Linked DNA regions of Homo sapiens: all the other regions are linked to region 3. Evidence: fine-mapped expression QTL. A gene starts in region 3. Each other region holds a variant in brackets. All regions are shown on one strand. Distances are between the middles of the regions.

Evidence for each region. PIP is the estimated chance that this variant, and not a neighbour inherited with it, causes the effect.
Region 1: its variant is fine-mapped to the expression of IL1B in whole blood (TOPMed, PIP above 0.99).
Region 2: its variant is fine-mapped to the expression of IL1B in unexposed skin (GTEx, PIP 0.94).

What each region holds. Positions count from the first base shown.
Region 1 is chr2:112,707,010-112,709,771 of GRCh38, reverse strand. No RefSeq gene overlaps it. Among named protein-coding and RNA genes, the nearest start is that of NT5DC4, 13 kb to the left of the region's middle. RefSeq lists an enhancer at 1,220-1,399. The variant C/T (reference allele first, on the strand shown) is at 1,369.
Region 2 is chr2:112,883,841-112,886,602 of GRCh38, reverse strand. No RefSeq gene overlaps it. Among named protein-coding and RNA genes, the nearest start is that of IL37, 26 kb to the left of the region's middle. The variant C/A (reference allele first, on the strand shown) is at 1,648.
Region 3 is chr2:112,835,688-112,838,407 of GRCh38, reverse strand. It overlaps IL1B (interleukin 1 beta), which reads left to right and starts at 1,629. Exons shown (of 7, transcript NM_000576.3): 1 at 1,629-1,700; 2 at 2,164-2,225. The coding sequence starts at 2,179.

The DNA of each region.
Region 1 (2,762 bases), 130 kb after region 3:
TGACACAGGACATACAGGGAAGGCCATAGGAAACAATGAACAGTAGCTGCCTGGCACCGCAGCTATTGTTCATTATTGAATTAATGAATTATCATCATCCAAAATGGTTAAAATGTTCCCGTCTTCATTTTCTCTTCAATAAGTTATGTCTGAATTGATTTTTTTTTTTGAGTCAGAGTCTCGTTCTGTCACCCAGACTGGAGTGCAGTGGCACGATCTCGGCTCACCGCCACCTCTGCCTCCTGGGTTCAAGCGATTCTCCTGCCTCAGCCTCCCGAGTAGCTGAGATTACAGGTGCATACCACCACACCCAGATAATTTTTGTATTTTTAAGTAGAGACGGGGTTTCACCATGTTGGCCAGGCTGGTCTCGAACTCTGTACCTCAAGTGATCCGCCCGCCTTGACCTCCCAAAGTGCTGGGATTATAGGCGGGAGCCACTGCGCCCGGCCGTCTGAATTGATTTTTAAAGAAGATAGGTTGGAGAGACCTGAGAGTGGCAGCTCTGTAGGAGTGACAGTTCACAGAAGTCTCAAATTCACACTCAGCAGGCAGAAGCAGTGCCTGTCTGTGAGAAGCTGAGAGTTCCCTCGGAGGGCGGCTCCTGGGGGGTTCTGGGCAGCACAAGCTAAGCCCTGTGCGGAGATTCTAGGTCGGCAGGAGAGTGACCTAATTAAACACACAGGCTTATTCTTAGACGAGGAGCCCCAGTTAAGGCCCCTGGGTAAGCACAGCACAAAGGCACAGCCCTAGAGGTGACCGGAATAATTCTCATTTTTAAGTAGCAGCCACTTTTTTTTATTATAAAAGTAGTACACATTCATCGTAGAATGTTTAGAAAATATAGAAAGTACAGGAAAGGAAATGCTCTCTACTAGAAATAACCGCTATTTTTGCTTATTTCCTTCCTGGTCTTCTTTTTATACATATTTACTTATTTGACGACTGAGGGGAAATGTTTATTCACAAGTGTAAGTGAAAAAAATATATAAAATTATAAACGGCACAATCCTAAATTTGTTCTGCAAATTAGGACTGTTATACATATGCAGTTCTGTGTCCTGTTTGTTTCATTCAATATTAAAAACCAACATCTCCTTTATGTCATTAAATATTCAGCAACTTGATTTTTAATGGCTTCATAATGTCCATCACATAGAATAGTGTATACACTGTTGCCCTGTAATGGGGCATTTAGGTGGCTTCCAATTTTTCAAATAACTCTACCATGAACCTCCCTGTGTATTTTTAATTATTATCTTGAGCTGATTTCTAGAAGTGAAAATTATTTAGAACTCTTGTTTTGCATTGCCAAATAACTTCCTGAAAATCCCCAGCTATTGGCACTTCCACATCATATAGAAAGTA[C/T]AGAAAAGTCCCTAAGTGTGGGACATCTTGGTTCCTGTAAAAACAACCTGAGGTTCCTTTTTTTTTTTTTTTTTTGAGACAGAGTTTCGCTCTCATTGCCCAGGCTGGAGTGGAATGGTGCGACCTCAGCTCACTGTAACCCCCACCTCCTAGGTTCAAGTAATTCTCCTGCCTCAGCCTCCCAAGTAGCTGCGATTACAGGCATGCACTGCCACGCCTGGCTAATTTTGTATTTTTAGCAGAGGTGGGGCTTCACCATGTTGGTCAGGCTGGTATCAAACTCCTGGCCTCAGGTGATCCACCTGCCTTGGTCTCCCAAAGTGCTGTGATTACAGCTCAGCTTCTTTATCAACGGACAGCTGATCCAGATCAAACAGAGGACACTGCGAGCAAGGAACCAGATCCTCAGAGCCGTCTGGTGCTTTGTGACTGAGCACAGCCAACACTGTCTCCTAGCAGGAGTCACCTTTCACCAGGTTAGGCTGCTGTAACCAACAACTCCAGAATTTTAGGGGATTACAGCAAGCACGGTTTATTTCTCACACACATCATTCAAAGATGTGGGTCAACTGTGGCTTTATTCCATGTCTTCTTAGTCTGAGACCCAAGCTGAAGGAACAGCCCAGCTCCTATCTCCAACCTCATGGTCACGGACAAAGACACAAAGCAGAAGTCCACAATGGTCTTTAGAGCTTTGACTTGGACTTGGCGTGTACAACTCCCACCCTCTTCCAAGCCTAAAGCCAAGGAAGCAAGGGAATACACTCCTCCCATGGGAAGGTGCTCCAGGTCCCGCGGCCTGGGGTGATACAGACAGATCCTGTTACAGAGTGGACAGAAGAGAACTGGGAACAAGGATACAATCTGCCACAGCTATGAGCAGTTGGAAACGATGCTTAGTGTTCATCGTCACTAAATCTGACGTCAGGAATCTCTGGCACCCAGAATACCACCTCATACTGGAAAATCCCATGCCCTAGAAGCCTTCTCCAATGGCTGATGAGAAGGATCACCTAGGTTTGACTTTTGTGCCAATAAAAGGAAAAAAATAAAATATACGTGTGTTGTGTGTGTTTATGAACATATATTTATAAGTAGCTCCATGTAAAATAGTGAAGGTATATGCTGTTAAATTTTTAAAAGGCAAAAGTAAAATTATATGTATGACAGGCTACCATTTATTTATTGTTTGTTTGTTTGTTTGTTTTTGTGAGACAGAGTCTCACTCTGTCGCCCAGGCTGCAGTGCAGTGACGCAATCTCAGCTCACTGTAACCTCCACGTCCCAGGTTCAAGCGATTCTACTGCCTCAGCCTCTCGAGTAGCTGGAATTACAGGCACCCGCCACCATGCACAGCTAATTTTTGTATTTTTAGTAGAAACGGGGTTTCATCA
Region 2 (2,762 bases), 48 kb before region 3:
GGGAACTTGAAGCAGGGAGCTTCCAGGTTACAAGGTAGATTATTCTCAACAGAAAGGAATGTCTGGGTTATGATAAGCGGTTGTGGAGACCAAGGTTTTATCTTGTAGATGAAGCCTCCGGGTAGCAAGCTTCAGAGGGAATAGATTGTCAAAGTTTCCTATCAGACATAAGGTCTGTGTTGATGTTAATGCTGGTCAGCTTTTCCTGAATTCCAAAAGGGAGAAGGGTATACTGGGGCATGTCCAACCTTCCCTTCCATCATGACCTGAACTAGTTTTTTCAGGTTAACTTTGGAATGCTCTTGGCCAAGAAGAGGGGTCCATTCAGATGGTTGGGGGGGCTTAGAATTTTATTTTTGGTTTACAGTGAAGACTTATCAAGCTATACACTTAAATGAGTATGTTGTTAAATGTAAACTATAACTAAATAAAGATTATTTTAAAAGAAATTAATGCAGCTAACCGTGACCCCTGGCAAAATAAAATAGTGTATATGTACGTGCATATACATGCAAAGAAATGAGTTGAAACTAGAAGGATGCCAATCAAATAATAACATGGTCATCTTGGGGTCGGAGTACATTTGGGGATGAGGGGAGCTGTAAAAGCAGACTTGGACCTTTTCTTCTACCAGTACCGTGTCATTTGAATTTTGGAAAGAAAAAAAAAAACTCAGAAGGAGGAGAAGGAGCAGGAGGAGAAGAAGATGGATCTTAAGTGATTTGCCCGGGAGCACCTTGAGAAGGTGAGATTCAAGTCTAGGTCTAAGCTTTCTAATTCCATGAGTGGGAGTGACCCACGTCCAAGAGGAAGCTCAAAAGGAAGATGTTCTCCATCATCTCTTGCTCATCCTAACAGCATGCAAAACCACATCCAATGCAGCTCAGAAAACTCCCAAATTGCCAAATTTCATTGGAAACACTTAATGCTGTGGTTTCCAATTTCAACTGTAAAGTAGGTATGTATGCCATTGTTACCATTAACTTCTCAGAAATGGAGAGAGCTCTCTTTCCGCCTCCTCCCCCTCTGCTGTGGCTTTGGTGAGACGTGCACTCAGGCTCACCTGTCTCCATGATCTCCAGTAAGTACACATGAGCAGAGAGGCCTCAGCTCAGCTCTTCCTGGTCCCACCAGGGTTGATTCTTTGAGAATTCTGGAATGCCACATCCTAGGCCCCCCAAAGAAATCCTGCATCTTACCCCCAGAAATATGAATCATAGCAAATTTCAAATCAACCATCGTTTAATACTCACAGACTGGGCACATCCAAAAACATATTTTCAGTTTTACAACAGTGCCTGGTGCATATCGGCACTATTTGTGGAAGCAATAAATCGACACGGAGCTGAAACACAAACAAATGCCAAATTGTTTTTATAACACCTGATTTTCTTTCTGTTTCTTTATGCAGTTTAGTTTTGTTTTGCTTAACTCTACCTCAGACCATAGTCTGGTAAACTCACCACCCAGAAGCTCCCTTGAAATGTGGGTATGCAGCCACTAGGTGGCAGGAGAGAGTTTCCTGCCTGGAGGGAGGACAGCCACTCTGTCCCCGGGTCAGGCCAGGGCCACCCTGCTACCTGCAAAATTAGCATGGGGCTTTATGAACCACAGCTTCCTAATAAACACAGGATCTGTTTGATAGAG[C/A]CTCCAAAACACGCCTACCTAGTGATGAAAGACTCAACTTCAGAAGAAAACCTTCATGGCAAACATCTTCAGAGATGTTTCCAACTTAAGGTTCTGAACACAGACGCTTCCCCAGAAAGCCATTGTTTCTCAGCACCTGGGAGCCTTGCTTTGCTTTGCTTACAGACTCGCTGTTCTTAAATCACTGCCAAGATAACATCTGTCTCTTCTCTTACCCTCTATTTCGATATAAGGACTCCTCACTCTTGTTGCTTCCTATTGGCTACCTCTCCACAGGGAGAAATCGCTGATTTAACAGCAGTCAATATCCCAAATCTGGAACAGGGAACAGGGAAGCATTTAAAAATTGGAGAATTTAGGCCGGGCACAGTGGCTCATGCCTGTAATCTCAGCACTTTGGGAGGTCGACGTGGATGGATCACTTAGGAGTTCGAGACCAAGCCTGGGCAACATGGCGAAACCTCATCTCTACAAAAAAAAAAAAAAAAAAAAAAAAAAACCCAAAAATTAGCCGGGCATGGTAGTGCACACCTGTGAGCCCCAGCTACTCAGGAGGCTGAGGTGGCAAGACTGCTTGAGCCCTGAGGTCGAGGCTGCAGTGAGCCGAGATCACACCACTGCACTTCAGCCTGGGCAACAGAGTGAGACCTTGTCCCAGATAAATAAATTAAATTAATTTAATTAGAGGATTTAAGGATTTTCCCTACAGACACCTCCTTATTTTCTCTGGCCTTTTCTGACTACTCTCCCTAACTCCCTGCTCCTCTGGTCTCCCAAAACTACTCCAGAAAAAAAAAAGGGGGGGAGGGACTAAAGGAAAGCCAGGTGACAGTGCCAGTGTGACAGATGACAAAGCATCTGCCCGAACAAACCGTAGGTCCCTGAACTTTCTCCAAGACCTATCTGTGGACTTACCTATGAAAACCAGTTTTAGCAAAAACCCTCCTAAGCCAGTTTATCAAGATCCCCTTATCCTCAATATCCATCTGATTGGATTCTTCATCCCCCACCATTCCCCAGTGATGTCACCAGGCCTTTCTTCAGCAACAGTAGTTAGTGGGTGTAGCCAGGACGCCCCCTCACCCCTGATATGCCCTTTTAGTAATTCTTCATCC
Region 3 (2,720 bases):
GAGTTCTTGTGACTGACTCCTGATATCAAGATACTGGGAGCCAAATTAAAAATCAGAAGGCTGCTTGGAGAGCAAGTCCATGAAATGCTCTTTTTCCCACAGTAGAACCTATTTCCCTCGTGTCTCAAATACTTGCACAGAGGCTCACTCCCTTGGATAATGCAGAGCGAGCACGATACCTGGCACATACTAATTTGAATAAAAATGCTGTCAAATTCCCATTCACCCATTCAAGCAGCAAACTCTACCACCTGAATGTACATGCCAGGCACTGTGCTAGACTTGGCTCAAAAAGATTTCAGTTTCCTGGAGGAACCAGGAGGAGCAAGGTTTCAACTCAGTGCTATAAGAAGTGTTACAGGCTGGACACGGTGGCTCACGCCTGTAATCCCAACACTTTGGGAGGCCGAGGCGGGCAGATCACAAGGTCAGGAGATCGAGACCATCCTGGCTAACATGGTGAAACCCTGTCTCTACTAAAAATACAAAAAATTAGCCGGGCGTGGCGGCAGGTGCCTGTAGTCCCAGCTGCTGGGGAGGCTGAGGCAGGAGAATGGTGTGAACCCGGGAGGCGGAACTTGCAGGGGGCCGAGATCGTGCCACTGCACTCCAGCCTGGGCGACAGAGTGAGACTCTGTCTCAAAAAAAAAAAAAAAGTGTTATGATGCAGACCTGTCAAAGAGGCAAAGGAGGGTGTTCCTACACTCCAGGCACTGTTCATAACCTGGACTCTCATTCATTCTACAAATGGAGGGCTCCCCTGGGCAGTACCCTGGAGCAGGCACTTTGCTGGTGTCTCGGTTAAAGAGAAACTGATAACTCTTGGTTGGTATTACCAAGAGATAGAGTCTCAGATGGATATTCTTACAGAAACAATATTCCACTTTTCAGAGTTCACCAAAAAATCATTTTAGGCAGAGCTCATCTGGCATTGATCTGGTTCATCCATGAGATTGGCTAGGGTAACAGCACCTGGTCTTGCAGGGTTGTGTGAGCTTATCTCCAGGGTTGCCCCAACTCCGTCAGGAGCCTGAACCCTGCATACCGTATGTTCTCTGCCCCAGCCAAGAAAGGTCAATTTTCTCCTCAGAGGCTCCTGCAATTGACAGAGAGCTCCTGAGGCAGAGAACAGCACCCAAGGTAGAGACCCACACCCTCAATACAGACAGGGAGGGCTATTGGCCCTTCATTGTACCCATTTATCCATCTGTAAGTGGGAAGATTCCTAAACTTAAGTACAAAGAAGTGAATGAAGAAAAGTATGTGCATGTATAAATCTGTGTGTCTTCCACTTTGTCCCACATATACTAAATTTAAACATTCTTCTAACGTGGGAAAATCCAGTATTTTAATGTGGACATCAACTGCACAACGATTGTCAGGAAAACAATGCATATTTGCATGGTGATACATTTGCAAAATGTGTCATAGTTTGCTACTCCTTGCCCTTCCATGAACCAGAGAATTATCTCAGTTTATTAGTCCCCTCCCCTAAGAAGCTTCCACCAATACTCTTTTCCCCTTTCCTTTAACTTGATTGTGAAATCAGGTATTCAACAGAGAAATTTCTCAGCCTCCTACTTCTGCTTTTGAAAGCCATAAAAACAGCGAGGGAGAAACTGGCAGATACCAAACCTCTTCGAGGCACAAGGCACAACAGGCTGCTCTGGGATTCTCTTCAGCCAATCTTCATTGCTCAAGTATGACTTTAATCTTCCTTACAACTAGGTGCTAAGGGAGTCTCTCTGTCTCTCTGCCTCTTTGTGTGTATGCATATTCTCTCTCTCTCTCTCTTTCTTTCTCTGTCTCTCCCTCTCCTTCCCTCTCTGCCTCCCTCTCTCAGCTTTTTGCAAAAATGCCAGGTGTAATATAATGCTTATGACTCGGGAAATATTCTGGGAATGGATACTGCTTATCTAACAGCTGACACCCTAAAGGTTAGTGTCAAAGCCTCTGCTCCAGCTCTCCTAGCCAATACATTGCTAGTTGGGGTTTGGTTTAGCAAATGCTTTTCTCTAGACCCAAAGGACTTCTCTTTCACACATTCATTCATTTACTCAGAGATCATTTCTTTGCATGACTGCCATGCACTGGATGCTGAGAGAAATCACACATGAACGTAGCCGTCATGGGGAAGTCACTCATTTTCTCCTTTTTACACAGGTGTCTGAAGCAGCCATGGCAGAAGTACCTGAGCTCGCCAGTGAAATGATGGCTTATTACAGGTCAGTGGAGACGCTGAGACCAGTAACATGAGCAGGTCTCCTCTTTCAAGAGTAGAGTGTTATCTGTGCTTGGAGACCAGATTTTTCCCCTAAATTGCCTCTTTCAGTGGCAAACAGGGTGCCAAGTAAATCTGATTTAAAGACTACTTTCCCATTACAAGTCCCTCCAGCCTTGGGACCTGGAGGCTATCCAGATGTGTTGTTGCAAGGGCTTCCTGCAGAGGCAAATGGGGAGAAAAGACTCCAAGCCCACAATACAAGGAATCCCTTTGCAAAGTGTGGCTTGGAGGGAGAGGGAGAGCTCAGATTTTAGCTGACTCTGCTGGGCTAGAGGTTAGGCCTCAAGATCCAACAGGGAGCACCCAGGGTGCCCACCTGCCAGGCCTAGAATCTGCCTTCTGGACTGTTCTGCGCATATCACTGTGAAACTTGCCAGGTGTTTCAGGCAGCTTTGAGAGGCAGGCTGTTTGCAGTTTCTTATGAACAGTCAAGTCT